2 separate regions of the Homo sapiens genome follow, and region 2 is linked to region 1. Evidence: fine-mapped expression QTL. A gene starts in region 1. The other region holds a variant in brackets. All regions are shown on one strand. Distances are from middle to middle. Region 1 holds the start of H2BW1 (H2B.W histone 1). Region 2 holds the start of H2BW2 (H2B.W histone 2).

The links. PIP is the estimated chance that this variant, and not a neighbour inherited with it, causes the effect. A credible set is the group of variants that fine-mapping cannot tell apart.
Region 2: its variant is the best candidate, but not a certain one, in a credible set for the expression of H2BW1 in cerebellum (GTEx, PIP 0.68).

Annotation. Positions count from the first base shown.
Region 1 is chrX:104,003,792-104,019,975 of GRCh38, forward strand. It overlaps H2BW1 (H2B.W histone 1), which reads right to left and starts at 9,917. Exons shown (of 3, transcript NM_001002916.5): 1 at 9,379-9,917; 2 at 8,899-8,957; 3 at 7,356-7,672. The coding sequence starts at 9,785. The coding sequence ends at 8,921.
Region 2 is chrX:104,036,128-104,052,311 of GRCh38, forward strand. It overlaps H2BW2 (H2B.W histone 2), which reads left to right and starts at 3,829. Exons shown (of 4, transcript NM_001388464.1): 1 at 3,829-4,277; 2 at 4,701-4,759; 3 at 4,961-4,979; 4 at 5,985-6,327. The coding sequence starts at 3,868. The coding sequence ends at 4,737. It overlaps LOC107985662 (a long non-coding RNA gene), which reads right to left. Exons shown (of 3, transcript XR_001755992.2): 3 at 15,341-15,838. The variant G/A (reference allele first, on the strand shown) is at 7,955.

The DNA.
Region 1 (16,184 bases):
AGTATCACCCATCCACAAAATGTATTTGTTTTTGATGACATAAGTACATCATAAAGTTCAAGAATCAATACCTCTCCAAGCTCCTTGGAAACTGAAGTTATTACTCCAACTACTTCTAATGTATCTGATTCTGTCTGTTCTTTTCCAGGTTATATTGTTTTATTTCTGGAAATACCCACCTTCATGACTTGGAACTAACGCATCGTTCGGATGATGGAAACATCCAGTCAGAGGGGTCCAAGCCCCACTCTCCACTGGCTCAGTCCATGAAGGCCCTGCGGCTCCTGGGCCATGGCCATTGGCCCACAGTGCTTGTTCAAACAGCGAGGGATAAGATCGCTCCTGCAGTTCTCACTCCTAAATTCCTCCGGTGGCCTGAAACCTGTCCTCTGAGATGCGTGCTGAGATGTGTGCTGTTGTAGGCTCCATAGAGAGGGACGGATTGTCATTGGAGTGTCAGATTCTGGAGAGCCATGAAAGAAGAGGTTGATGAGGGAATTGGGAACACTTGGGGGCCCCAAATCTGGAGGATCAGATATTGAGACCAGGTTCTAGTCAACCTCCTATTAAGAAGTACTGACTCCCCATATTCTTCTTACTGTTATTCTGTGTGTCTTTTTATGTATGGCCAGGGCCACAGAAGGGAGAAAGAGTGTCTATAATGGTTAGAAACTTCATGTCACTTAAGGGCAATCAATCACTATGGCATGGAGAAGGAGGATCCACTAAATGGGAGATGTCACCCTGCTAGTGATAGGTCCAGTGTAAAACCATTTGAGAGCCTACCCCTTCGACCCAGAGAGTTAAAGGACCACTTCTTATGCACATGCTCTGTGTGTGCCACCCAGCAGCATCTCAAGAAGCGTGTGCTGAATAGGCTGCATCTCAGAAAGGCTGCCCATTCCTGAATGCTCTTCGTATTGGCACATTGGTTGCGTCTGCTTGCCCCTCCCTCTGGGCTCCCGACAGGCCCGTTGATGGCTTTGACACATGGAGAATGGCGGACTTTAGCCTGTCCCAGAGGTAACCTTTCAGAGGACTAGAGTGGCCTCTGTCTGGCTGTCTGAGAGCTCTGAGCTGCCCCCTAAGAAGTCCACCTCTCCTGCTGGAGACACCACAGTGATATGCTCTGAGGGGCCTTGGAGAGGTGCAGAGGCCCGGTTGAGCTCAGGCCTCCAGCCAGCCCCTCCAAGGCATCAGGCGTGCTGGTACAAGCTGTCTGGGACCTTCCCCAATGACCTTAGGCATCGGGTGAATAAATAGCACTGAGTGCAGCTCCTCTGGCTTCTACTTGTAAGGGACACTTAAGCACAGTGGAGCCTGTCTCCTCATTGCATCATAGGTCACACGGGTGATCTTGTGGCCTGGTTCTCTCCCAAGGATCTGTGGGAGTGAAATGCCCATTGTGGACTCCCAAGGGATTCAACATCTTCTAGGCTAACAGACCTTTTCCAAGGAGGCTTTCTTGACCCGGGCTTGTTCTACAGTTCACCTTGAGGATGGCCAGTGGGTGGGTCATCTGCTACTATTTTGGGGGATCCTGGAGCCACTGTGGAATTCCCTGGGACAGCTGCCTTGAGGTTTAGCTTGAACCATCCCCTCTCCATTTCTCCCCCTGTCCTGGAGGGACTATATCCCCTTACCTGAGCTCGAGGACCCACTGAGTCCTATGTCTTTATTGCCTACAGCTTTCTCTCAAGCAGGCCTGCCTCTGCCTGGTAAAAGTACAAGGCAGGCACTGCTATATTGGGCTCTACATCTTTCCCTCCTGCCCACCACCCATTCACAGGCATTCACTAGAACTTAATCTAGCATAGGACTAGATGCCTGTCAGGGCCACTTACTCATGATGCGACCTTGGTAGCGGTTGACCAAATCTGTCTGGTATAACTCAAAGGAGAATCAGTGCCTGCACATCCTGGAAGAGAGCTAGGAGGGGAATGAGTGAGGACTACACTTATGTGCATTACCTACATAGCCGAGTGCCTGCCACATTGTACCCTAAGGTGCCCAATGAAAAATGGTTACGATGGCGTTTATTGTAGTGCTGGATGCTGGAAGGTGAGGAAGGATGAGATGTGGCCCCCGTGGTCTGTGACATTGCAACTGAGGGGACAACTAGCACAGACATGATCTCCAATGACTATCAAGAGAAGGCAGCATGTGATCAAGGCCGCCATGCCAGCATGCTGTGGGTTCAGAAGGGAGGAAGAAGAAGAGTCAGGGAACTCACCACAGGCCTGCACCAGACACTGCACCTAGCACGCTACATCGACTCTCTCTTTCCTTCCTCATCACAATCCGTCTGTGAGGATGTTGCAAACAGTGTGCCCATGTCACGGTTGGAGATCCTGTGACTCAAGGAGGGAGCAGTCTCTCTAGGCTGGGAGGGTCAGGACATCTTCATAGGGGAGTCAGGATTTGAGCCAAGACCTGAAAAGTGAATAGGATTCAGATAGTGAGACGGTGGGCAGGGGCAAGGAGGTGGTATGGGAAGCGAGGTTCCTTGGCCGTGAGGGGGAATAGCTTGCCACAAAGCCCCGAGTGGTTAGTGCCCGAAGCCAGGAGCACTTTAAAGTTGCTCCCCAGCAACTTCCCGTCAGGACTCAGAGCAGCGTTATCTCTACTGCTTCACTAACATGTGGCTCAGGGGGGAAAAATCATCCTCCCTTATCTCACTGTCAGCCCGAAGCAAACAGATGTGTCCCAGGTAGCCAGGAGGGTGTGCTCATACAGCTGTCTGGCACTGGATCCCACCCCCACCACCTGTGATTTCCGGAGGGCAGGAATCTCGAAATTGGGACCAGGTACAGCCGACATTCATTGGTTGCTGACTATGTATCTGGCACCCCGTCTGCATCATCACCCTGGATCTTCACAACCACCTTCTAGAGCCCTATTCCACAGAGGAGGAAACTGAGGCTCAGAGAGGTCAAGCCACTTGCCCAACACGGTACAGCCTCTAAGAGGCACAGCTGGGGTCTGAGCCCAGGTCTCCTCTCACCCCCAATCCCATGCTCTCAATGACTCTTGCTGTCGAGTCCAGTCCCACTAGCTCACATGAGTCCTAAGACCCAAACAGACGCTCTAATGGTGTTGTGTCTCTTTCCCATGTTAATGCAGCCTAGCCACACCAGTTGTCTCCAGGAAACAAAAGCACAGGAATGTCAAAGAGAAGAAATCATGAAAAACATGCTATTAAAAGTAAATCGCTCTCATTGCCCACCAAACTTTGTGTTCGAAACCCCAATGGATGTTCTTATTCTATCCCCAGATCTTTCCACAGAGGGGTGGCCACACGTACAGGTTTTGCCTATTGTCCCACCCAATGATTCGTAGTGCCCCATTCACTCTGAAAGCTGCCCCCACATTTATTAGACAAGAACTTATGTGCTCACTTGCCTATGAAAAAGGCAAAGAAGCCTCACACATCAGGTCTTTGGCAACCCTGACACACAACGCTGAGCGAGGATCCGCAGCTCTCCCAAGAGAGAGTGGGCTCCTGAAGGAAGAAATAAGGAATAACCAGATGACGAATATGATTTAGAGAGGATTCCTAGTACAACGCAGCTTGTTTGGAACTGGAGAGGTCGCAGAACAGGAGTGGAAGAATGCGTGGAACGCAGAGCTCGCCCTAGTTGAGAGTCGGAAGGGTTGAGCACTTGCTCTGCGGCATACCAAAAGGGGAAATTCAGACACAGAGACATGCATCCAGGGAAGAAAATGTGAAGTGGCATGCGCAAGAGTGGACCATTTACAAGTCAAGGAAAGATCCCTGGAAGAGATCCTTCCCTCTTACTACTCAGAAGGAACCAACCCAGCTGGCGCTTTGATTTGGACTTCCAGCCTGCCTAAATGTAACCAATAAATTTCTGCTGTTTATGCCGCCATGTTTGTGGTACTTTGTCAGAATAGCCCTATCAAACTACTGGAGATTCTGTTGCCAAGCAGTGGGATGATGTGATAAGGAACATCCGGAAGATTGGAAGAGGCCTTGGAACTAGGTAATGCATACAGGCTGGAAGCGTTGTGACAGGCATGACACAAGAAGCCTAGAGTGCCTTCAGGAAACGGCGGGGGGGATATGAACACCAAATGACATTGAAACGAGGGTTAAGAAAGAATTCTTTGCTGTAGAGAAAGGATCTCTGACTTAGAGAATACATATATCATGATCACCAAAATGTTGCTAGAACTATGTGTGTTAAAGGTGCCTGTGGTGTGTTTTCAGACGGAGACTAGGAAGAGGTTATTGGAAGCACGAGGAAAGGCCATCCTAGTTTTACAGTGGCAAAGGTTTGGGCTGTATTGTCTTCATAGTGTCTTTGAGGAAAGTAGAATTTGTAAGTGATGAACTTGCACATGTAGCTGATTTCTAGTGTTGGAGCTCAGGGCACACTATCCCAAAATGAGGGCTTCAGAAGTAGTCTCAGATGAAAACGATTTTCTCTGACATTCTTGGTCCTCTGGTCTCTCAGTCCCATTCAGCCCCGGGGGCTAAACTTAGAGACCAGAATCCCTCTTCCGGAAGGTGGGTCCTAGAAACCAGAAGCTCTTTTTTCTAAAGATAGTCACAAAACCTAGAAACGGTATTGTAATGTTTTCCACATTTTCATGTAAAAACTGTCCATGAAGAAATGATCGAACCTATGTTGTTTGGAGTCACCAGACCCCCATTCCAGAGAGGGTCCTGCCCCATATCCGGGAGGAAGGACTGTGTGCTCAGATAGGCCAAGCAGAGTCTAGACAGACAGGCCTTGCTGGGTTCCCCCACTCCACCTGTTAGCATTAGATCATAGCCTTTTTGTCCCATCGTATTTCTACACAGCTGTTTATACTCCTTTGAGCCCAGGCATAAAAATGGATAATTTCCCATGTATCTTTGGCTATTAACACTAAAGCCTCTGGGGATACACTTCGAATAAGTTGGTATGCCTTATGTCCTATGGCTCTGCGTTTTGTGACTTGAGCTTTCAGCAAAACTTAAGAAGACCAGGGGGAACCTTGGCCACTACACTGACAAACTGAGAAAAGTATTTAGATTTAATCTGGTTACTCCTAGATGCCTACAGTAAATGGGAGAGAAGTGAGAGAAATTAGCCAAGGAAGCACTGAGGAGAAGGAAGCCAGCACTGGATGATTCAGAAGGTACTCAAAGTATGCAGATACCTTGCTCTGGAAACAGGTGCAAGGGTGTGCCTGGAAAACCATTGGCCTAAGAGGAGAGGCATGTGCCTCACGGATCCAATCAACCATCTCTGCAGAAGTTAGGAATTGAGATATGGGAGATATGGGTATTCAAGGAAGATCTGTAGACAACTTCTTGTCTGATGGCCTGGACTCATGTGAATTCCGTGGGAAGCCAACAAATTTTTGAGAATTTTATACGAGAAAAATGTTGCCAGACTGGACTGAACGGGACAAAGATGGGACGAAATGAAAGGAGGCTGTTAGAGTTCCTGGACTGTACCGGCAAGAAAGGGACTGACTGAGGTACCCAGCTGTGACCATTTCTTCATTTTCGAGACAGGGAAGAAGGACTCCAAAGTTGGGTCAGAGGTTGGCATGGCCGTCACTGCCCCCAAGAACCAGGGGCACGGTACTAGGGGACTGGGCCATCTCTCTCTTGGTCCCAGAAACGGAGGTCACCTCCTGAGTTCCAGGCATTTGTCCCACCTCCTCGGTTTCAGAGGGATGGGCTGCAGCAGCCCAGGCTGGGGGGAGAGCCCCCACCCCGCTGCCCAGGGCTTAGGGTGTGAAGCTGTTACCCCATTGGGCCTGAAGGACAGAGCACTGAGCCCAGGCAGAATCTTTTCCATCCTTGGAATGTAACGGAATTTGCCCCCATTAGGTTTCAAAAGTGCTTAGAGCCCACGTACTCCAGTAGTTTTTCAGATTTCCTGCTTTTGGTAGGATAAGCCCTATCCGGCACCAGTCCCACAACTGTCTTTCAGAAGCAGACAACGTGTCTAGCTTCACAGGTGCAGTGGTGGAGAGAATTCCCGCCTCAGCATGAGTCATACCTGGAGGCTCACCCATTCCAGATATAGATTATCAGGTGAGATATTAGAGAATTGACGTTGGAGGGCGTTAAGTCTTTGGGGATGTTGTGATGAAATGAATGTATTTCCTATGTGAGGACATTAATTTGTGCCGCGGAGTGGATGCAGAAGGTGTACTAGTATGGATGGAGTTGTGTCTCCCTACAATTCAGAGGTAGAAGTCCTGGCCCCCAGTGTTTTAGAATGTGACCTTATTTGGAGAGAGTCTCTAGTCAGGTCATGTGGTTAAAGTGAAGTTATGAGGGTTGACCCTACCCAACAGGATTGGTCTCCTTACAAAAAGGTGACAATAGGTATCCAGAACTGTGGGATGAAAAATACATAGTGTTTAAGTCAGCCAGTCTCTGGAATATTTTTGCAGCGGCCCTAGAAAACTAATATAATAAAATACACCTCCAACAGCAGCATTAAAAGCATACAACCCATCGAAGAACCAAAGAAGCACACCCATGTAATCACAGGTTTCCCCTTCAACTCCCATTGAACATCCCTGGACAAGTAACTCTTCCTAGTTCAGACCGGGAAACCTCATCACACATTGGGCTGTGGCTCCTCGGCTGCAGGTGCCTCACTGGCTGACAAGGATCTGAGTGGAGCTTGTGCTGCTCCATCGGACAGCATTCCATCATCCCCATGATGAACAGAGGCCAGGCATAAAGGTCTCCAAAAACAAAAGATTCTAGTCTGAAGAAGAGCAGAATCAGACAAATCTAAGCAAGTGGGATTCCATTTCTAGGGAGCCTAGAATAGGTATTGTTCCTTAAAATTTTTTATATCATTTTCTCTGTACTGTCTTTGGGTCCTTGCTCATGTTTACGAATGAACTCCATGGTACAGGGAATGCTGATGAAAAGATTGATTGGACTATGTTTGTCCTATTCATCCTACTTTCCATACATTGATACTTCTTATTTGTTGTTTAAGCCGTAAAGCTATTTCCCTTACTTTGTGTTTTCAGTAAGCCACAGCTTGACATCACGATTGCTCACTAGGTTCCCCTTCTCCTCAATCACCCACTGAAATGCTATAGCAGATGTGTGAGCTCCTCTGCCCATCTTCACATCAAAGCAGCCTTTTTCTCTTTCTTCCTATAACTCACCGGCATCAGTCCCCTTGAACTCTCACTCTTCACTCCCCACAGCCCAATCAGAGTTCATTGTTAACGCTGTTTTACTAATGCTCCTCATTCATTTCTGAATTTACAAATGGAAAACACACACTCCAGGGTAAAATATCCCAATGGATACGGTTTCTGAAAAAGACATGTCAAATTACCCAGTAGACATGCAAGGATAATTTTAGAAATTTATTTGTATGTCCCATTTGACAGAAAGACTGGCGCTTTAAAGCGAAAACAATTAGCATAATGAGAAATAAGTCACTGAGTGAGATGCGGTGTTTTAGACAAGGTACACAGCTCTGTCTCTGGAAAGGAACAGGGTTCTGCCAAGCGTCTTTGGTTTTCAAAGTGTTGCTCCGGACATGTAGGGTCACCTGGCGGCACCGTCCAGAGCGATTTAGTTGTGGCTGATTTCGTGGGGGGTTTTTCTTGGTCTCCTTGTGCAGTGAGCATTTCTCTTCAACTATTTTCATGACATTTTTCTAATATTCTGCAAAAACAGAAAGTAGCAAATCCCAATGAGGGGACTTCTTGGCCCTACATCCTTTCTCTACGGAGCCCAAGTGGAGCTCTGGAGGTGAACTGCCCACGCTGCCCAAATGCACTACTCAGGGAAGCTCTGGCTACTATCCTGCCATGCCCCCATTTCCCTCTTGACCAAACGGTCCTCTGCCAAAGGTGGAATAATCTATGTGGCTATGTGTTGGGCCATCTGGTGTGGTTCTTTCCCACTTCTGATGGGCTCAAGAAAATTTTGATTTTTGTCATTTTCCCAGCTTTTGTTTCATGGTTTGACTGAGAGTGTCACCCTTTACTGGTTTCTACATATGAAGGAGAAAGGTTGTTTATGAGATGTTTCAAAATTCACGGGAAACATTTGACAAAAATGGCCACATATTGAGCTTCAAGGCACAATACAATAAATTCCTATGGGTCGCAATCCCAGAGTATGTTCTCTGGTCCACATACTCGGGCGGCTGGAGATCCTCTGAAAAGAAAAGCAATGGGAAAGTCAGCAGCTGCTCTGAAATTCAACAATACACTCATAGGAAAAAGTGCTAAAAATACAAAGACTTGGGACCCAGAAGAAAGCACAATGAAAGCTAACCTATATTAACATTAACATGAATATTAATATGCAAATCTCTTGAGGAAATAAGCGTTATCTGACTTCTCCTAAAGGCTGACCATCCTCTGCATAACTTGATGCTAGGGGCAAGGAACATATACTACTCCTAGCACTGGATTCATATCCTTAAATGACCATGATTACAAACACTGAAAACAAAAACATCAGGTAAAGAATCACAACCCTGTCCCCCCAAACACCAGACTGCATATCAGTGCAAGGCTGTTGTGGGTTCAGCCTGGTTCACTGCCCCCACACTGGGACAATGACTGTTGCTCATAGACTGCAAGTCACTCATTGGCTACACCACTGAACACTAGGGCATGAGCCATTTCTGTGGACACTCCCTAAGCCTACTGACACAAACCTGGAAGTAACGAAGGTTTCTGTTTAAAAAGAAACGAAAAGATTATCGTCATGGCAAAAAAAGAATGAACTGCAATAGTGATCTCAGAGTCGAGGAAGCTGGAAAATGAACGGATTCTTGAAAATTTTATTTAGCTGTATGTACACTGTAACTTGGCCTCATTTGCTTATTTACATGGATTCGTGATGGGAGCGGTGTTGAAAACATTTAGGAGGGTTACCTTGCTTCTTGTATCAGCGTATTCACTTTCTCTGTTGCTGTATGGCATACAGTGAAGTTCTGGAAAATTCCACCATCCAGTCACAGGAGAATGAGACAGAAAAAGGTAAAGATCAGTGCAGTAATAATATCACCATATAGATAGCCTAGAAACATAACTAACAAAAATGACCGTTTACGAAACTGAGGAAATGAAACACGATCACGGAAACACCCACTATTTTTCCTTGGAGCAAACTGCACTACAGATATATTGGAGCTGACAATGTTTAGTACTGAGGGGAAAATGCTTGAAACATTGCAGGATGCCACACGCCACATGCCCCCCAAGTCGGAAGGGCACCACCCACCCCAGCCTCCGGTGGTGTCCCCCTTGGCGAGCCACTGGTCTTTCAGGCCACATTCAGTGGCTCTGAAAAGACCCTTTGGGTTCCCGTGGTGCTCGGGTGCTCCTGAGGGAGCGCACTTGCTCCTGGTGTACCTGAGGACAGCCTTCGTGCCTTCGGACTCGGCGAGCTTGCCCATCTGCCCCGGCAGCAGCAGGCGCACAGCCATCCGGGTCTCCCAGGCAGTGATGGTCTGGCGCTTGGTGGAGCGGGCCAGGTGACCAGCCTCGGTGGCGATGCGGTCCAATATGTCATGAACCAAAGAATCCATGACACTCACGGCCTCCCGGGAAAGGCTGAGGCCCTGGTGAACCTGCTTCAGCACCCGGCGGAAATAGGTGGCGAAGCTGTCCCCGCGGCAGTTGGAGTGGCACCTGCGGGGCCCATGGCGCCCTCGCTTCCTCTGCTTGCTCTGCTTCTGGGACGTAGTGGAGTTGGCCTCTTTGGGCTCCTGGGTGATCAGCTGTTCCTCAGAGGTCGTCTCAGAGGAAGGTCCAGCCATGGCGGAGGCAGTGGCCATTAGATGGCACGACCAGACAATGGCGGTTGTGGACCGGGGAAGCCGGGGCACTTCGGTACGCAGCATGGCTCCACGTCTCGGGCCAGCTTCACGTCTGATTGGATGAAGTGTCACGCAGGGAGCCTCTCAGCAAACCTACCTGCGTTGAAGGTGACTGGATGGTCCCGTTGCGTGGCATCTCGTCAACCAATCACAGTGGGCGTCTGCGGGCCTAAGCGCCCCTTGTGGCCCAGCTCGGAGAAAGTTACACAGATAGATGCCTCACGGGGCAAAAGCGCATCCGCCCTTCTCAGCTGATCCATGCCACACTGTGAGCACTTTGAAGGGTGTCACTGAAAACTCCCAAAGTTTAGCAATTTCAGCTCATGATCCCTGAGGAGAGACAGACCTCCTGAGCCCAAGTCCATTATGCCGGAAGAATGACTGTGGCCACGTGTGGAACAATTGTCACCCATCTCAGAAGCTACTGTTATCCTGGGCTAAGCCACCCTGGCTTGAGCAGGAACTCCCTGACATGGCCGCCTGGGCATCAAAGGACCTAGCGGTCTGGCTCCGGGCTTCAGTACTGATCAACATCTTCCGTGAATCAGGAGAATGAGAAATGGCCATACCCCAGCCTCCAAGCAGACAATAGAAACAGAAAGGCACTTTTATTAAAAACATATGACAACACTCGACATCGACCAGGTTTAAAAAAATAATTAAAAAAAAAAAAAGGAAAGCAAAACAACAACCACAAATCACAACTCAAAAGCTGGAAATGGCTAATAAGTTTAAGAGATATTGGGTTAAAAAATATCGCCTTAAATCTCCTAGGAAGCCCCTGAGGGAGAGAAAGGGATTCCAGAAATGGAAATTATGTTCAAGTTAGAAAGAGAGCTTTCAAGAGTCTCTGATAATATACGCAAAGGCATTCCTTAAATGCATTTAAGTAACATTAAGTTGCAGGAATTGAACAAGAAAGATTCTTAAGAAATGCTGAAGAAATAAAGGTCATCGATGAACTGTCATTTCAAAGGTCAGGCTTTCAAGTGTATTTCCTGTCATGTCTTTAGCAAACAACTTATTCTACTCCTAATAAATTGGTTCACGATTAAGAAGGACAAAAAGGCTCATTTTTGTTGTTAGATAAGATCGTATATGGTAAGCTCTGTGACTGAACTCTAGTACACCATTTCTGAACAGTCCCCTTTACAAATGATGATCTTATAAATCTACTTAAACGTTTAGCAAGACAATCCTTCTCGTAGTTTGGTACAAGGCACAAGAGACCTGTCCACAACAATCTCTGTATTCATATCAGTAAGTCAGCATGATATTTTTCTTAAAAAAAAAAAAGCAAACAAAAAACAGGGAAAGAGCCACATCGTTTTTCTTCACAATCTGCAAGGTTAAACCTCCCAGGGAGGCTCTCACTGGTTCATTTCCGGGTCACCTCCCCACACTTTCAGCCATGGCTTGTGGTGCCTCAAGGGCTGGAAAGCCTTTATTGCCTGAGCCAGTGGTGACTATGGCATGAGCTGCTCTCACAGGATGTTCCCATCATCTACGTGATGCAAAATTGTAATATATAGTCCTTATTTTGTTTCTCTAATTCTTTTTTTTTCTTTTTTTTGAGACAACAATCTGTCACCCAGGCTGGAGTGCATTGGTGCGATCTCAGCTCACTGCCACCTCCACCTGCTGGGTTCAAGAGGTTCTCCTGCCTCAGGCTCCCCAGTAGCTAAGACTACAGGGATGCGCCACCACACCCGGCTAATTTTTGTACTTTTAGTGGAGACGGGGTTTTATCATGTTGGCCACGCTGGCCTTGAACTCCTGGCCTAAAGTGATCCATCCACCTCAGCCTCCCAAAGTGCTGGGATTACAGGCATCAGCCACTGCGCCCTGCCTGTTTCCTTAATTTTTAATATAGTCATAATCTTTATTGCATCAGGGTGTTTTCCATTTTATTTTAAGTTCGGGGGTACATGTACAGAATGTACAGGTATTTTAGAGAGGTAAACGTGTGTCATGGGGCTTTTCTGTGCCGATTATTTCATCACCCAGGCATTAAGCCTAGTAACCATTAGTTATTTTTCCTGATCCTGTCCCTCCTCCCACTCTCCACCCTCCGATAGGCCCCAGTGTGTGTTGTTCCTCTCTATGTGTCCATGTGTTCTCATCATTTAGCTCCTACTTACAAGTGAGAACATGCACTATTTGGTTTGCTGCTTGTATTAGTCTGTTCTCACGCTGCTATGAAGAAATAGCCGAGACTGGGTTATTTATAAAGGAGGGAGATTTAATTGACTCACAGTTCCACAGGGCTGGCGAGGCCTCACAAAACTTACAATTATGGTGGAAGGAAATGCAAGCACGTCCTTTTTCACGTGGTGGCAGGAAGGAGAAGAAGTGCAGAGCGAAGGGGTAAGCCCCTTCTAAAACCATCAGATCCTGTGAGAACTCACTCACTATCATGAGAACAGCATGGGGGAAAGCACCCCCACAGTTCAGTCACCTCCATGTGGTCCCACCCTTGACACAGGGAGAGTATGGAAATTACAATTCAAGGTGAGATTTGGGTGGGGGACACAGAGCCAAACCATATCACTGTTCTTACAGTAGTTTGCTAAGGATAATGGCCTCCAGCTCCATCCAAGTCCCTGCAAAGGACATGGTGTCGTTCTATTTTATAGAGGCATAGTATTCCACGGTGTATATGTACCACAGTTTCCTTATCCAGCCTATCATTGATGGGCATTTGGGTTGATTTCATGTCCTTGCTATCGTGAACAGTGCTGCAATGAACATACGCATGCACACGTCTGTATAATAGAACGATTTCTATTTCTTTGCGTATATGCCCAGTAATGGCATTGCTGGGTCGAATTGTATTTCAGACCTCAGGTCTTTCAGGTATTGCCACACTGTCTTCCACAATGGTTGAAATAATTTACGCTCCCCCAAAGACCGTGCATAAGCGTCCCTTTCTCTCTGCAAACTTGCCAGCATGTGTTATTTTTGGACTTCATCATAGTAGCCATTCTGACTGATATGAGACAGTATCTCATTGTGGTTTTGATTTGCATTTCTCTAACATCAGTGATGTTGACGTTTTTTTTTATTTGCTTGTTGGCCCTATGTAGGTCTTCCTTTGAGAAATGTCTGTTCATGTCCTTTGCCCATTTTTTAATGGGGTTGTTGGTTTATTTCTTGTAAATGTGGTTAAGTTCCTTACAGATGCTGGATATTAGACCTTTGTCAGATGCATCGTTTGCAAAAATGTTCTCCCATTCGGTAGGTTGTGTGTTTACTGTGTTGAGAGTTTCTTTTGCTGTGCAGAAGCTCTTTAATTTAGTTAGATACCATTTGTCAATTTTTGCTTTTGTTGGAATTTCTTTTGGCATCTTAGTCATGAAATCTTTGCCTGGTACTGGTGTCCATGTCCCGAATGGTGTAGCCTAAGTTGTCATCTAGAGTTTTTATAGTTTTGGATTTTACTTTTAGGTTTTTAATTCATCTCATGTTCATTTTTGTATACGGTGTAAGGAAGGGGGTCCAGGTTCAATCTTCAGCATATGGCTAGCCAGCACCTCCAGCACTATTTATTCCATAGGGAATCCTCTCCACATTGCTTGCTTTTTTTCAGGTTTGTCGAAGATCATATAGTTGTAGGCGTGCAGTCTTAATTTCTGGGTTTGTCTCAAAATAATAATAACAACAACAACAATAATAATAATTTCTGCATTCTCTATTCTGTTCCATTGGTCTGTGTGTCTGTTCTTGTACCTGTACTGTAGCCCTGGAGTATAGTTTGAAGTCAGGTAGTGTGATGCCTCCAGCTTTCTTCCTTTTGCTTAAGATTGTGTTGGTCTATTCGGGCTCTTTTGTTGGTTTCACGTGAATTTCAGGATATTATTTCCAGTTCTGGGGAGAATGTCAACGGTAGTTTAATGGGAATAACATTGAATCTGTAAAGTGCTTTGGGAAGTATGGTCATTTTAACGATACTGATTCTTCCTATGCATAAGTATGGAATGTTTTTCCATTTGTTTGTGTCACCTCTGATTTCTTTAAGTAGTGGTTTGTAGTTCTCCTTGTAGAGATCTTTCACTTTCTTGGCTAGCTGTCTTCCTAGGCATTTTATTCTTTTTGTGGCAAGTGTGAATGGGAGTTCATTCGTGATTTGGCTCTCGGGTTCATTGTTGTGGATGTACAAGAGTGCTGGTGATTTTTGCACAATGATTTTGTATCCTGAGGATTTGCTGAAGTTGTTTATTAGCTTGAGAAGCTTTGGGGCTGAGACGATGGGGCTTTCTAGATATAGGATCATGTCGTCTGAAAACAGGGACATGATTTTGACTTCCTCTCTTCCTATTTGAATGCTCTTTATTCCTTTCTCTTGCCTGGTTGCCCAGGCTGGAACTTCCAAGACTATGTTGAATCGCAGTGGTGAGAGGGCATCCTTGTCTTGGGCCAGTTTCCAAGGGGAGTGCTTCCAGCTCTTGCCCATTCAGTATGATGTTGGCTGTGGGTCTGTCATAGATGCCTCTTATTATTTTGAGGTGCGTTCCTTCAGTACATAGTTTACTGAGAGTTTTTAACATGAAGTGGTGTTGAATTTTATCAAAAGCCTTTTCTGCAGCTATTGAGATAAACATGTGGTTTTTCTCTTTCGTGCTGTTTATGTGATGAATCACAACTGTTGCTTTGCGTATGTTGAACTGACCTTGCATCACGGGGGTCCCAGGGGTGAAGCCCACGTGATGGTGGCGGATACGCTTTTTGGTGTGCTGCTGGATTCGGTTTGCCAGTAGTTTGTTGAGGATGTTTGCATCGATGTTCATCAAGGATATCAGACTGAAGGGTTTTCTTTTTCTGTTGTTGTATTTCTCCTGCGTCAGTTTTATACAATCATCGTTTTACTCCTCTTGTTAATTTATTCTATTACCCTTCCTTCTTGGCACCTCCAGTCATCTTCTTGTGATCACTTTACATCTCTTTAAATGACATTCTTCAGAAATTTCTTTAACAAAGTTTTTGTTGGTATCCACACTAAGAGTTTTCCATTTCTCTCAAATATCATCATTTCTGACTTTGGTCCTGGAAGAAATTGGCTCTGAAATAAAGTTTAGTGTGTGGGAAACTTATTCAGGGTCAATAGCTGAGGAAGGGTCTGGAGGCAGGCAGGAGTGGGCATAGGGAGAAGTTCACCTCGAGTGCAAGGCCAGTGGAATCCTATTCTGATCCCAGGGTGAGATCTGAAGATAAAGGGGCCCATCAGGGTATTCGCCATTGTGCCAAAATACCAGACCGTTCGACTTCTCCTGGATCAGGCAGTGTGTATGGGCAAGGCAGCTAAGAGTAGCTATGGTAATACTGGAAAGGACTAATGGCTCAGGACTGGCACCTGCTTGCATTCCCAACACCCGAAACAGCAAATCCATCCTTAAAGGGGACGCTGGCTCGTCCACGCCTACCACAGCCTCGTTCTCAAATAATACTTTAGCTAGCAATGACATTCTGTGTTAACACACATCTCCTCTGATTTTGGCTTTTATTTATTGATAGAAGGAGGTTGGCTGTCAAACTATTTGTTATTCCTTTATAGGCCTTGTAGTTGTCTTTTTTTCTTTTCTCAGCTATTGTGATTTCTGTTTTTACTTTTCTTAAGCTTTAGAAGGATGGGTACAGGTGTGCTCCCTGAAGGTAGGATATCATGTCTTCCTTCAATTCTGTAAAATTACCAGCTATTTTCCCTTTGATTAGAATTCTTCCCAACTTGCCCAGTATTACTTATAAGATATACTTTGTGCTTTTTAGTCAAACCCTTAAGGTTTATCAGTTCTCCTCACTCCTTTCTCACATGTTATGTCCCTATGAAATTTTCACAGTTACTTTACATCTGTCTTCTCATTCTCCAATTCTCTGTCCAACTGTGCCTAATCTGCTGTTTAAAATGTCTTTAATTTTGTGTTATAGCCATTCAACTTTCATACTTTGGCGAAGCTCCATGACATAGGCCTGGGCAATGATTTTTTGGATATGACCCTGAAAGCCCAGCAACAGAAGCAAAAAGTAGACAAATGTGATAGTGTCAAATTAAAGACGTTTTTACAGAAAAAGAATAAATAATAGAGTGAGGAGACGACCTGTTACCCAATGTAATGCCTACACGACCTAGATAAATTTCTACCCTGCCTTAACTCTGCTTGTCTTTAGGAAACAGGATGCCTGACATCAGAATTTCCCCATCATGACCAAGCCGGCTGAGACTGATGGGATGTAATGCGGCAGCTCAATTGATCTTAGAGGAACCTGGAACTTCATTACAATCTAATTCTTATACGAACTGACACGCCCACCAGCGCCATGACTGTTGACAATCACCGTGACAAC
Region 2 (16,184 bases), 32 kb after region 1:
GGTATTGATTAATGGAATCACGAAAACGTCTCATATTTAAGTGGATATTTTACATGTGGGAAAAACACACAGATCTCTGCAGCAATGTTTTGGTGCAGAAAGCTTGTATTAGGGGATTTCCAGACAAATAAAACCAATAGGATATTTATCCATCTATCTGTCGAGAGAGATTTATTGTAAGAAACTGATTCATGTGATTATGGAGGCTGGCAAGTCCTAAATCTGCAGGGTGGGCTGGCAGCCTAGAGTCCCAGGTACAAGCTGAGGTGACAGTTTAAGTCTAAAGACCATGAGGCTGAAGACCCATGGGAGAGCCGATGTTGCAGTTCAAGTGTGAAGGCTGTCTGTTGCAGAATTTACTCTTGCTTGGGGGAAGTCAGTCTTTTTGGTCTATTCAGGCCAATATGGAGGGCAGTCTGTTGTACTCAGATCCATTGATTTCAATGTTAATCTTACCGAAAAGGACATTCACACAAACATTGAGAATAAAATTTGACCACATATCTAGGTACTGTAACCCAACCAAGCCGAGTTACCTAGATCTCTATCTTTGCTTATTTGGGAAAAAAATCTCCCCCTGGTTGGAAAGACAAGACGAGACAAGACATGAAATTGGCCATCACAGAGCTAAATGTTGATCATCGGGTAATGACTGTATAACCCTAACCTGAAAATTTTCCCCACTCACTGCTTCCCACCCTGTCTCTCACCAATCTGCAACAGACTAAACACATGCTCCCCAACTTACAATGGAGTTAAGTCCAGTTAAACCTATCACAAAGGTAAATAATTTTAAGTTGAACCATGCTAAGTTGGAGTCCATCTGCATTGGACACAATTGTGCAACATGGAATGGCTATGCATTTGTTTCAGACAGCTATTGAAACACACAATTGAGCTCAGGCATGGTTGAATTTGCTAACTGCTGCTTGAAGAAACTCCCGTGGCTGCACGAGAAAATCAGGTTTCTTGTATACATTTGCAGGAAGGCTAACTTGATGCTTTTGCTTTTACACCTCTGAATTTATCACGTTGCCTTCAGGGAAAGATCAAACTACGTAAAGACTTGTTGTGAAGGGGAGGCTCACCTCAGACTGTCTACCTACGTATTCATGCGTTGAAGGTGCCATCACCGCAGTATGAGAGAGGATGGCAGGAGACAACGTTCAAGTGCTTGGGTTCTGGACTCAGACTGACGTGGATTTGAATTTCTGCTCTTCCATTTATCAGCTGTGTGATCACTGGACACGTTTGTTAGTTACTGTGTTTCTTGTCTGCCAAAAAGTTGAGGCTAAAATATCTACACCATAAAGAGTTATTGGGAGGAGTCAATGTGATATGCAGATCATGGAGGAAACAAAATCTGACATTCTCATGGGTTTAACACGGGGACTCAGACAGCTTTGTAGAGAAATAATTCCTTTTAAGTGCAGAACAGGAAAGGGGACTGTACCCAAGAGGTCCCGATGGGTCGTGTGGACTAGCCACAGAATTCAGCAATGGTCTCATAGGTTGTCATGGGCCAGTCTCTTATCTAACATAGGTTCATTTATTTATCTGTTCATTCAACAAAGATCTGAGATCTACTACACTCACAACTTCCTGCATGTTCTAGTTACATTGGGAAGTACAGATTTGTAAATTTGGACATGTTTCAGAGTGAAAGGGGATGCTGTTAAGAATTACTAAGGGACAACAGGTGAAATCAGGACACATGGTCACTATACTAGGGAAAATGTCTGGGATAAGGAAAAAGAGGAAATAGCCACCCTTTACAGCTTCTTCTGTGCCCCCACTCACTTCCACACTCCTTCCCCCTTATTGCAGAGTGACAGTCTAATGAAAGGGGAAGACTATTATATTGCATCAAGAATCAGGGCCAATCATATTTTGGAGAAAGCTTTGTACTGAAGTAAGTGTTTTTATTGTCTCAAATTACCATAGTGGGTTAATTTTGTCAGACACATGTGCCTGAAAGTGAAAAAGCCCCACAACAATCAAATTGAAAAAAAAAGGAGAGTCGTCCTAGTTTTTTTAATTGGTCACTATCATTTTATTAAACTTGTGGACAAATGTAAACCTAAAAGAGCCAGTCTTTCCAGATGGATCCCAGTGACTGAGCCTAAATCTAAACTAGAGCCAAGCAAGCTGCCACGTGCAGACTAGAGCTCACACATGTACTAGGAATTCCCCAAAAGCCCATACCTCTATCTAACTCTGCAACTTTCAGAGGTCACCTGAACCAACCAGCCAGAGCTCACCTGCCCCTGCCAATCAGGGCTCAGTCGTGTTGACCAATCAGAGATCAACTGAGTCAACCAATCAGAACTAATTTTGAATCCTTTATTTGCATGAATGGACTGTACTGAGAACCTCGATGGGAACTTTCTCTATAAAAGCCATATCCTCTTTTAGTTCTCTGGAACTTCGCCTTTGTTTTACACTGAAGTCTGCCCCTCCCTGGTGTGCAAGCTGTTCACAGGAATAGTCTCTTTCCTCCAAATTCCTTTTCAGAGAACTTGCCTTCATAATATGATGCCAGAGGTAGGAGACATGCTTACTCACAGCTTTGGATTCAAATCTTTAATTCACCACAATTACAATAAAACGAAAAATCAAACAAAGAAATAAAAAGTGGACAAAAACCTCAAACTAATTTTCTCCTCAATTTACAAGGCTGAACAGCTAGGAGGGCATTTATTGGTTCAGGACTGGTCACCTGCTCACATTCTGAGCCAGTGGCTCAGGCCCAGGGCTGAAGACACTTCATTAGTTGAGCCAGTGGAGAGTGGGGTTTGGGTGCTCTCATTGGATACTTCCATCGTAAGTGATGCATACTCACAGGACATTAAGCTTTGCATTAAAAAAGATTGTAGACTGGGAAACAATAGAATTAGACAAATGTGAATGAGTTAGAGTCCTTACTTTATTTTCTCGGAAGCTTGAAAGGGGTGCTGTTCATTGAATTTTTGATTTAGCTATTTCTGCACTGTGGGTTTTTGTTATGTATTTAAATGAATTGTATAATAGAGGTAATGTTGAAAAAAGATTATATGAGGTCTGCTTGTTCCATTAGTAATGTTTGCCCCGTTTGATGCTTCTAAATTGTTATTTACAGCAGTAAACTGTTTCCCTTTGTGTGTGTGTGTGTGTGTGTGTGTGTGTGTGTAATGTGATTTAATTTATAATATTTCAGGTATGAGTTTTGTAACCAAGTTTATAAATGTTCTCAGATTTTTGTAGTGTGCATCCTTCAATGGGTATCAACATCATGTTTTATTTTCTTGAAATAAGTTTTCTCTGCCAGGCACAATAGCTCATGCCTGTAATCCCAGCAGCTTGGGAGGCCAAGGCAGGAGAATCACTGGAGTCCAGGAGTTGGGACCAGCCTGAGGAAACATAAAGAAACCATGTTTCTCACACACACACACATACACACACACAAAATACAAAACTTAGCCAGGTGTGGTGGTACGCGCCTCTACTCCCAGCTACTTGGGAGGCTGAAGAGGGAGCATCACTTGAAACCAGGAGGCAGGGGTTGCAGTGAGCTGAGACCGCACCACTGCACTGCAGGTGTGCCACAGAGCAAGACTCTGTGTACCTTTGTCTGAGGTAGGCAACCCGGCCACTTAGGCGGGCAGACGCCCTCTGTGATTGGCTGACATGATTCCAAGCAACAGGATCATCCGATCACCTTCAATGGAGGGAAGATTGCTGAGAGGCGCCCTTGGTGACACTTCATCCAATCAGATGTCGAGTTGGAATGTGACGTAGAGCCATGCGACCATACCAAAGTGCCCCCCACTTCCCTGGTCCCCAACCGTCACTCTCTGTTCTTGCTATCTAATGGCCGCTGCTTCCGCCATGGCTGAGGCTTCCTCTGAGACAACCTCGGAGGAAGGCCAGAGCATCCAGGAGCCCAAAGAGGCCAACTCCACGAAGGCCCAGAAGCAGAAGAGGCGAGGGTGCCGAGGCTCCCGCAGGCGCCACGCCAACCGCCGTGGGGACAGCTTCGGGGACAGCTTCACCCCCTATTTCCCCCGGGTGCTGAAGCAGGTTCACCAGGGCCTCAGCCTTTCCCAGGAGGCCGTGAGTGTCATGGATTCTATGATCCATGACATATTGGACCGCATCGCCACCGAGGCTGGTCAGCTGGCCCATTACACCAAGCGCGTGACCATCACCTCCCGGGACATCCAGATGGCCGTGCGACTGCTGCTGCCGGGGAAGATGGGCAAGCTCGCCGAGGCCCAGGGCACGAATGCCGCCCTCAGGTACACCAAAAGCAAGTGAGCTGTCTCAGGAGCGCCTGAGCACCTGGGAAACCCAAAGGCTCTATTCAGAACCACCGCCCGTGGCCCTATAGGCCAGTGGCCCGCCAAGGGGGGGACCCCACCGGAGGTTGGTGTGGGTGGCACCGTTCCAGCTTGGGGGGCATGTGCCGTGTGGCCTCCTGCGGTTTTTCAAGCATTTTTCCCACAGTGCAAAACACTGTCAACTCCAATATATCTGTAGTGCAATATGCTCCAAGGAAAAGTAGGGGGTGTTTCCGTAATCGTGTTTCGTGTCCTCAGTTTCCCAAATGGCCGTTTTTCTTAGTTATCTTTCTAGGTTATCTTTATGATGATGTTATCAATGTACTGATGTTTACCTTTTTCACTCTCATTCTCCTACGACTGGATGGTGGGATTTTCCAGAACTTCATTATGTGCGATATGGCAACAGAGAAAGTGAATATGCTGATACAAGAAGCAAGGTAACCCTCCTAAATGTGTTCAGCATCTCTCTCATCATGAATCCATGTAAATAAGCAAACGAGGCCCAGTTACAGTATATATATGGCTAAATAAAATTTTCAAGAATCCATTCGTTTTCCAGCTTCCCCGACTCTGAGACCACTATTGTAATTCATTCTCTTTTTGTACTGACAGTAATTTTTTCATTTCTTTTTGAACAGAAACCTTCCTTACTTCCAGGTGTGTGTCAGTAGGATTACGGAGTGTCCACGGAAACAGCTCATGCCCTAGTGTACAGTGGTACAGCCAATGAGTGACCTGCAGTCTATGAGCAACAGTCATTGACCCAATGTGGGGGGAGTGACCCAAGCTGAACCCACAGCAGCCTTCCTGTTATATTCAACCTGGTGTTTAAAGGAACGGCAGTGTGATTCTTTACCTGATGTTTTTGTTTGCATTGCTTGTAATCATGATCTTTTAGGGATATGAATCCAAAGCTAAGATTAGAATATGTACCTTGTCCCTAACATCAAGTTATACAGAACATTGGCAACCATTAGTAGAAGTCAGATAAGGCTTATTTCCTCAAAAGATTAGCATATTTATATTCATGTTAATATTAATATAGGCTACCTTTCATTGTGCTCTCTTCTGGGTCCCAAGTCTTGGCATTTTAAGCATTTTTTTCTATAAGTGTATTGCTGAATTTCAGAGCAGGTGCTCACTTTCCCATTGCTTTCCTTTTCCATTGATTTCCAGTCGCCCGAGTATGTGGACAAGAGAACATACTCTGGGACTGCAACCCACAGGAATTTATTATGTTGTGCCTTGAAGCTCAACATGTGGCCATTTTTGTTAAATGTTTCCCGTAAATTTTGAAACATCTCATAAACAACCCTTCTCCTTCATATGTAGAAACCAGTAAAGGATGGCACTCTCAGTCAAACCATGAAACAAAAGCTGGATAAATGACAAAAATCAAAATTTTCTTGAGCCCATCAGAAGTGGGAAAGAACCACCCCAGAGGGCCCAACACATAGCCACATAGATTATTCCACCATTTAAAGAGGACCCCTTGGTCAAGAGGGAAACAGGGTCAGGGCAAGATGGTAGCCAGAGCTTCCCTGAGTAGTGCAGATGGGAAGAGGGGAAGGTCACCTCCAGAGCTCCACTTGGGATCCATAGAGAAATGATATAGAACCAAGAAGTCCACTCATTGGGATCTGTTACTTTCTGTTTTTCCAGATTATTAGAAAAATATTACAGAAATAGCTGAAGAGAAATGTTATGAAAATAGTTGAAGTTGTGCTTATTGCACGAGGAGACCAAGAAAAACCCCACAAAATCAGCTGCAAGTAAATCCTTCTGGATGGTGCCACCAAATGTTCCTACAAGTCCGGAACAACCCTTGCCAAACCAAAGACCCTTGCCAGAACCCTGCTTCTTCCCAGAGACAGAGCTGTGTACCTGACAAAACACCACATCTCACTCAGTGACTTATTTCTCATTATGCTAATTGTTTTGCTGTAAAATGCCAATGTTTCTGTGAATTAAGACATACGAATAAATTTCTGAAGTTACCCTTGCATATGTGTGTAATTAGACAAGTCCTTTTGAGAAACCAAATCCACTGAGATATTTTACCTTGGAATATGTGTTTTCCCTTTGTAAATTCAGAAATCAAAGAGGGCCATTAGTAAAACAGGGTTAACAATGAAATCTGATTTGGTTGTGGGGAGTGAAGAGTGAGGGGGCAAGGGGACTGATGCCGGTGAATTACAGGAAGAAAGAGGAAAGGGGTGGATTGATGTGAAGATCGGAGGAGGAAGCTCACACATTTGATATGGTATTTCTTTGGGTCATTGAGCAGAAGCGGAACCTATTAGGCAATCATGATGTCATGCTGTGACTTAAAGAAACGCAAACTACGGGAAAGACCTTTACTGCTTAAACAACAAATAAGAAGTATCAATGTAGGGAAAACAGCATGAATGGGATAAAGAGAGTCCAGTCAAACATTTGATCAGCCTTCCCTGTAACCTGGAGTTCATTTGAAAATATAAGCAAGGACACAAACACGGCAGAGAAAACTACATCAAAAAGTCTAAGGAACAATACCTATTCTAGGCTCCTTCGTAATGAAATCTCACTTGTTTAGATTTACCTGATTCTGCTCTTCTTCAGGCTAGAATCTTTTGTTTAAGAAAACCTTCATGACTGGCCTCAGTGCATCATGGGGATGATGGAATGCCGTCCAATGGAGCAGCACAAGCTCCACTCAGATCCGTGTCAGCCAGTGAGGCAACTGCAGCCAAGGGGCCATGGCCCAATGTGTGATCAGGTTTCCCGGTCTGAAATAGGTAGAGTTAGTTGTCCAGGGATGTTCAATGGGAGTTGAAGGGGAAACCTGTGATTACATGGGTGTGCTTCTTTGGCTCTTCGATGGGTTGTATGCTTTCAATGCTTCTGATGGAGGTGTATTCTATCAGTTTTCTAGGGCCGCTGAAAAATATTCCAGAGACTGGCTGACTTAAACACTATGTATTTTTTATCTCACAGTTCTGGATTACAATTGTCACCATTTTGTAAGGAGACCAATCCTGTTGGATAAGGTCAACCCTCATAACTTCACTTTAACCAGATGACCTGACTAAAGACTCTCTCCAAATAAGGTCACATTCTAAAACACTGGGGGCCAGGACTTCTACCTCTGAATTGTAGGGAGACACAACTCCATACATACTAGTACACCTTCTGCACCACTCCGTGACACAAATTAACAACCTCACATAGAAAATACATTCATTTCATCACAACATCCCTGAAGACTTAACTCACTCCAACGTCAATTCTCTAATATCTCACCTGATAATCTTCTATATCTGGAATGGGTGAGCCTCCAGGTATGATTCATGCTGAGGCGGGAATTCTCTCCACCACTGCATCTGTGAAGCTAGACAAGTTATCTCCTTCTGAAAGACAGTTGTGAGACTGATACCAGATAGGGCTTATCATACCAAAAGCAGGAAATCCGAAAAACTACTGGAGTACGTGGGCCCTAAGCACTTTTGAAACCTAATGGGGGCAAATTCCGTTACATTCTAAAGATGGAAAAGATTCTGCTTGGGCTCAGTGCTCTGTCCTTCAGGCCCAATGGGGTAACAGCTTCACACCCTAAGCCCTGGGCAGCCGGGTGGGGGCTCTCCCCCCAGCCT[G/A]GGCTGCTGCAGCCCATCCCTCTGAAACCGAGGAGGTGGGACAAATGCCTGGAACTCAGGAGGTGACCTCCATTTCTGGGACCAAGAGAGAGATGGCCCAGTCCCCTAGTACCGTGCCCCTGGTTCTTGGGGGCAGTGACGGCCATGCCAACCTCTGACCCAACTTTGGAGTCCTTCCTCCCTGTCTCGAAAATGAAGAAATGGTCACAGCTGGGTGCCTCAGTCAGTCCCTTTCTTGCCGGTACAGTCCAGGAACTCTAACAGCCTCCTTGAATTTCGTCCCATCTTTGTCCCGTTCAGTCCAGTCTGGCAATGTTTTTCTGCTGTAAAATTCTCAAAAAATTCTTGGCTTCCCACGGAATTCACATGCGTCCAGGCCATCAGACAAGAAGTTGTCTAAAGATCTTTCGTGAATACCAATATCTTCCATATTTCAATTCCTAACTTCTGCAGAGACAGTTGATTGGATCTGTGAGACACATACCTCCCCTCTTTAGCTAACGGTCTTCCAGGCACACCCTTGCACCTATTTCCAGAGCAAGGTATCTGCATCTTTTGAGTACCTTCTGAGTCATCCAATGCTGACTTCCTTTTACTCAGTTCTTCCTTTGCTAATTTCTCTCTCTTCTCTCCCATTCACTATACAGATCTAGGAGAAACCAGATTAAATCCTAAATACTTTTCTCAGTTTGTCAGTGTAGTGGCCAAGATTCCCCCCTTGTCCTCTTAAGTTTCACTGAAAACTCAAGTCACAAAAGGCAGATCCATAGGACATAAGGCATACCAACTTATACAATGTGTCTCCCTGGGAGTCTTTAGTGTTAATAGCCAAAGATACATGGGAAATTATTATCCATTTTTATGCCTTGGCTTAAAGGAATATGGACATCTGTGTAGAAATATGATGGGACAAAAAGACTATGATCTAATGCGAATAGGCTGAGTGGGGGAAACCTGGCAAGGCCTGTGTGTCTAGACTCTGCTTGGCCTATCTGAGCACACAGTCCTTCCTCCCGGATACGGGGCAGGACCCTCTCTGGAATGGGGGTCTTCTGACTTCCATTCAAAGAAGATAGGTTAGATCATTTCTTCATGGACAGTTTTTACATGAAAATGTGGAAGATATTACAATATCATTTCTTGGTTTTGTGACTATAAAAAAGAGCTTCTGGTTTCTAGAACCCACCTTCGGGAAGAAGGATTCTGGTTCCTGGGTTTAGCCCCTGAGGTTGAATGGGACTGAGAGACAGGAGGACCAAGAATGTCAGAGAAAATCTTTTTTATCTGAAAATACTTCTGAAGCCCCCATTTTTTGGTATTGTGCCCTGAACTCCAAAACTAGAAATCAGCTACATGTGCAAGTTCATCACTTACAAATTCTGCTTTCCTCAAAGACACTAAGAACACAATACAGCCCAAATCTTTGCCACTGTAAAACTAGGATGGCCTTTCCTCATGCTTCCAATAACCTCTTCGTAGTCTCCGTCTGCAAACACGCCACAAGCACCTTTAACACACATAGTTCTAGCAACATTTCGGTGATCATGATACATGTATTCTCTAAGTCAGAGATCCTTTCTCTACAGCAAATAATTCTTCTTAGCCCTCGTTTCAATTGCATTTGGTGTTCATATTTCCCTCCGCTGTTTCCTAAAGTCACTCTAGGCTTCTTGTGTCATGCATGTCAAAACACTTCCAGCCTGTATGCATTACCTAGTTCCGAGGCCTCGTCCAATCTTTGGAGGTTCCTTATTGCATCATCCCACTGCTTGGCAACAGAGTCTCTAGTAGTTTGCTAGGGCTATTCTGAAAAAGTACCACAGATCTGATGGCATAAACAGCAGAAATTTATTGTTCACGGTTCAGCAGGTTGGAAGTCCAAATCAAAGTGCCAGCTGTGTTGGTTCCTTCTGAGTAGTAAGAGGGAAGGATCTCTTCCAGGGATCTTTCCTTGGCTTGTAAGTGGCCCATTTATCCCCATGCCACTTCACGTTTTCTTCCCTGGACGCATGTCTCTGTGTCTGAATTTCCCCTTATGGTATGCAGAATGCATTCTAGTCATTTTGGTTAGAGCACACCTTAATGAATGTAATTTAACTTGAGTACCCCAGTTAAGGACCTACTTCAAGTAGGAGAGAGATGAGGGGTCAGGAGTCTAATATATATATTGGGGACTGAGGGATCTTAGGCTGCAGACTCCTTATGGAAATCTAATGACTGATGATCTGTCACTGTCCCCCATCACCCCCATATCGGACCGTCTAGTGGCAGGAAAACAAGCTCAGGGTTACCACTGATTCTACAATATGGTGAGTCGTAAAATTATTTCATTACACATTAAAATATAATAATAATAGAAATAAAGTGTACAATAAGTGTAATGCACTTGAGTCATCCCAAAACCATCACCCCCAATGCCATTCCATGGAAAAAATTGTCTTCCCTGAAACTAGTCACTGGTGTCAAAAAGGTTGGGGACCGCTGGTCTACCCAGCGTGTGCTGGCAAACTGCTATCCCCCGAGTCATTTGTTATCTTAGCCTATGTCTGGGAACAAGAGGAAACTCTGGGATTGCTTCTTCTCTGAAGAGGATATGGCATCCAGTCGCTATTGAACTTCAGTACAATATTGAGAATTCTAATTGTCAATAACCAATAGATTGATCCTCTAAATTAACCCGCTAAATTATATTAAAAGGATTTTAGAGATTTCTCATTCTAACCAGTTGATAAAAAGGTTAAACATATAAAAAGACACATCATGGTGTGACAGTTAGCCTTAAAATTTGGCTTGACAAAAGTGACGAGCAAAAAATCTGACCAAAACAAAGATAACCTCCTGTGTCTGCTCAAACTGCCCCATGTGGGAATAACAACAAAGGCCACTCCACCTTGTGAAATCTATTTTCCTCCTCTTTGGAGACACCTCATGCATCCTTGGTTGTGTCATAATCTTGGTGAAACTTACCTGAAAAGGTACCTTTACTTTAACGAAAACAAAACAAACAAGAAAAGGTGAAAACCCAGAAATATCAGCTGCTTGTCTTCTGCTGCTTGTGGGCCATAGTGGCCTCGGCTGCTGTGGGATCTTTCATGTTCAGGCATTCATTGGAGGTTGTCTCAGAGGAAGGCTCAGCCATCTTGGAGGCAACTGCCAGTGGATGTGAGGAACGGACAATGATGGCTGACCACCAGCGGGATGGCCTTTTGTAGTCACCCCATGGCTTATGTCACGGGCCAGCAACTCCACATCTGACTGAATGAAGTGCCACGCAGGGAGCCTATCAGCAAGCCTCCTGGCCTTGGAGGCGATTCGATGGTCTCGTTGCTTGGCAATCACTGTGGGTGTCGGTCGACCTGCTCCCCAACACTCACCTGCCGCAGAGCAAGTGCTCAACCCTGCCAACTCTCAACTAGAGCGAGGTCTGCGTTCCACGCATTCTTCCACCCTTGTTCTCTGACTACTCCAGTTCCAGACAAGTTGGGTTGTACTAGGATCCTCTCTAAATCATATTCCTCATCTGTTTATTCCTTATTTCTTCCTCCAGGAGCCCACTCTCTCTTGGAAGAGCTGAGGATCCTCGCTCAACATGGTGTGTCAGGGTTGCCAAAGACCTGATGTGTGAGGCTTCTTTGCCTTTTCATAGGTAGGGTGAGCAAGCAATTTCCTGTTGAATATATGTGAGGGCAGCATTTGGAGGGAATGGGGAACTACGAATAATTGGGCTGGCACAATAGGCAAAATCAGGATGTGTGGCCACCCTTCTGGGGAAAGATCTGGCAATAGAATAAGAACGTCCCTTGTGTTTTGGGACAAAAAGATTCGTGGGCAATGAGACTGATTTACTTTTAATAGCATCTTTTTCATGATTTCTTCTCTTTGACATTCTGGTGCTTTTGTTTTCTGGAGGCAACTGGTGTGGCTAGGCTGCATTAACATGGGAAAGCGACACAACACCTTGAGAACGTCTGTTTGGGTCATAGGACTCATGTAAGCTAGTGGGACCGGACTCGACAGAAAGAGTGATTGAGGGCATCGATTTGGGAGTCAGAGGAGACCTGGGCTGAGACCCCAGCTGTATCTCTTACTAGCTGTACTGCGATTGGCAAGTGGCTTGACCTCTCTGAGCCTCAGTTTCCTCCTCTGTGGAACAGGGGTCTAGAAGGTGGTTGTGAAGATCCAGGGTGATGATGCAGACACGGTGCCAGATACATAGTCAGCAACCAATGAATGCCGGCTGTACCTGGTCCCAATTCCGAGATTTGTGCCCTCAGGCAATGGCAGGTGGTGGGGGTGGGATCCAGTGCCAGACAGCTGAATGAACACGCTCTCCTGGCTACCTGGGCCCCATCTGTTTGCTTCGAGCTGACAGTGAGATAAGGGACAATGACTTTCCCGTCCTGAGCCACATGTTAGTGAAGCGGTAGAGATAATGCTGCTCTGAGTCCTGACGGGAAGTTGCTGGGGAGCAACTTTACAGTGCTCCCGGCTTGGGGCACTACCCACTCGGGGCTTTGTGACAAGTTATTTCCACTCACTGCCACAGAACCTGGCTTCCCATACCACCTCCTTGCCCCCACCCACCGTCTCCCTAACTGAATTTTATTCACTTTTCAGGTCTTGGCTCAAATCCTGACTCCCCTGTGAAGATGTCCTGACCCTCCCAGCCTAGAGCCACTGCTCGTTTCATGAGTCTCCAGATCTCCAACTGTGACATGGGCATACTTGTTTGCCACATCCCCACAGACGGATTGTGATGAGGAAGGAAAGAGAGAGTCGATATAGCATGCTAAGTGCAGTGTCTGGTGCGGGCCTGTGGTGAGTTCCCCGCCTACACTTCTTCCTCCCCTCCGAACCCCCAGCATGCAGGCATGGCGGCCTTGATCACATGCTGCCTTCTCTTGATAATCATTGGGGATCATTCCTGTGCTAGTTGCCCCTCAGTTGCAATGTCACAGACCATGGGGGCCACATCTCATCCTTTCTCACCTTCCAGCATCCAGCACTACAATAAAAGCCATCATAACCATTTTTCATTGGGCACCTTAGGGTAACATGTGGCAGGCACTCGGCTATGTGTGTAATGCACATGAGTGTAGTCCTCACTCTTTCCCCTCCTAGCCCTCTTCCAGGATGTGCAGGCATTGATTCTCCTTTGAATTATATTAGACAAATTGTGTCAACCGCTACCAAGGTCGCTTCATGAGTAAGTGGCCTCGACAGACATAAAGTCCTATGCTAGATTAAGTTTCTAGTGAGTGCCTGAGAATGGGTGGTTGGCAGGAAGGACAGACGTAGAGCCCAGAATACAAGTGCCTTCCCCATGACTTTTACCCGGCAGAGGCAGGGATTCGAGTTCTTCCTGGTTTAGACTTGGGAGGGTATATGTGTCCAGGAATTTATCCATTTCTTCTAGATTTTCTAGTTTACCTGCATAGAAGTGTTTATAGTATTCTCTGACGGTAGTTTGTATTTCTGTGAAATCAGTGGTGATATCTCCTAATGAATGTAATTTAACTTGAGTATCCCAGTAAAGAAACCATCTTTAAGTAGAATAGAGATGAGAGGTTAGGAGTCAAACTCACGTATTTGGTGTGGCAGAGGCAGCGGGGAGCACAACTGAACAAACAGAACATAGGAATCCTGAGTTGTAGATGTGGATATCTCCAGCCTCTTCCAGTATGTTAAGAGAACACTGGTGACTGATGAAGGGAAATAAGGTGATCCCTACCCATGTTTTTTAAAGTCTACTTGAAAGTTGAGTAATTGTATTGTATATATAATATATATGCATATACATATACATATATATATATATATGTATATATATATATATATATTTGTCCTTTTCCAGCTCAAAAGGGAGAGAAGATACTCTGTGATTTCAATCCTCAGAAATGTATGACTATTTGCTTTAAAGTCCTAGATTTGGCTAATTTTGTTAAGTGTTCCATTTGCACTTTTATGATAACTTGTAAACTCCACCATTCAGTAGTAGGTACAAACCTATAAGGGTCATCACTTTCAGCGAAACCATGTGACCAATGTTGGATAGTGTCCAAAAATGAACGCTTTTCTGTAGCCCATCAGAAGGAGCTTACAACCCTCCAGGAGAGATAAAACACAAAGTTTCTTTAACTTCGGTAGACCCCTGTGACCTCAAGTAAATGAATGGGGGTAAGGGAGGATACTAGGGGAAGCATCCTTGAGTAGCCCAGGCAAGAAGGGCACAATGCTAGATTGAGGAGTGGGAATAAATGTCTGTGTTTTCAAGGCCTAAATCACAAGAATTCTGGTGGGAAATGATATCTTCAAGACTCTTCTTTGGATCATGAGGGTGAAAATTTAGGACAAAGAGCCACCTCAGAAAATTCATTACTTATTTTTATTCTGGAGAAGTAAATGAACATCATGAAAAGACTTGGAAAAACATTTTTTTCCTAAGCAGACTAGGAGAAACTACTACAATTCAACTGCAAGCCAATCCCTCTGGGTGGTGCCTTGAGTTTGTCTTAAACTATTGGAAAACAAAGGATCTCTGCGGGCATGTGCACACTTTCCAAAACAGAACTCTATGCATCAGAGGAAAAAAATATATAATTTCTCTACACATCACTTAATTTCCGTCATGCTCATTGCTACTGCTTCAAAATGCCAGTGTTTGTCCATACGACATTCAAAAATGCATCAGAAGCGGGCTGCAGACTTGAAGCCCAGAAGCTCAAAGTTGACTGACACTAATGAAATTTAGGAAGGAGTTGAGGGAAATGGGGTTTGATGTGGAAGATCCAAGGGGAGGTGAGGACATCTGATTGTTGACTTCAGCGGGTGCAGGAGGAAAAAGGACGCCTAGGGAGGCTTCGTGATCTGATGGTGAGGTTTACGGAAAGGACAATCTAAAAGGAAATGGTTTTACTGCTTCTGTGACAAAGTATAACTGTCAACCTAGAAAACAGATGTATTAATACGACAGACGTAACCAACCAGGTTGTTTCTTACAACAGGACCCATATTATGGACATCATTTAAATATCTAGGGCCCGGCACAGTGCCTGTAATCCTACCACTTCAGGAGTCCAAGGCGGGTGAATCAACTGAGTTCAGGAATTCGAGATCAGCCAGGGCAACATGGGGAAACCCATCTCTACCAAAAATACAAAAATACACACACACACACACACACACACACACAAATTAGCCAGGCGCAGTGACACATGCCTGCAGTCTCAGCTTCTTATGGGGCTGAGGTAGGAGAATCGCTTGAACCCAGATTGTCCAGTCTACACTGAGCCGAGATGGCGTCATTGCTCTGCAGCCCGGGTGACAAAGTGAGACCCAGTCATAAGAAAAAACTAAAAAAGATATATAATGTAAAATACATATATGTAACATATATATATATATATATAAACTATATAAAAAGAATAAATAAATATCTTAGTATCACCCATCCACAAAATGTATGTGTTTTTGATGACATAAGTACATCATAAAGTTCAAGAATCAATACCTCTCCAAGCTCCCTAGAAACTGAAGTTATTACTCCAACTACTTCTAATGTATCTGATTCTGTCTGTTCTTTTCCAGGTTATATTGTTTTATTTCTGGAAATACCCACCTTCATGACTTGGAACTAACGCATCGTTGGGATGATGGAAACGTCCAATCAGAGGGGTCCAAGCCCCACTTTCCACTGGCTCAGTCCATGGCCATTGGCCCACAGTGCTTGTTCAAACAGTGTGGGATAAGGTCGCTCCTGTAGTCACTCCCTAAATTCCTCCGGTGGCCTGAAACCTGTCCTCTCTAGAACGCTGAGGTGTGTGCTGTCGTAGGCTCCATAGAGAGGGATGGATTGTCATTGGAGTGCCACATTTTAGGGGAGCCCTGAAAGAGGAGGTTGATGAGGGAATTTGGAACACTCGGGGGCCCCTAATCTGGAGGCTCAGATATTGAGACCAGGTTCTAGTCAAGCTACTATTAACAAGTACTGATTTCCCATATTCTCCTTAATGTTGTTCTGTGTGTCTGTTTATGTATGGCCAGGGCCCCAGAAGGGAGAAAGAGCATCTATAATGCTTAGAAACTCCATGCCACTTAAGGGCAATCACTGCGGCATGGAGAAGGAGGATCCACTAAATGGGAGAGGTCACCCTATAGTGATAGGTCCAACCTAAAACCATTAGAGAGCCTACCGCTTTGACCCAGAGAGTAAAGCACCTCTTCTTTTATG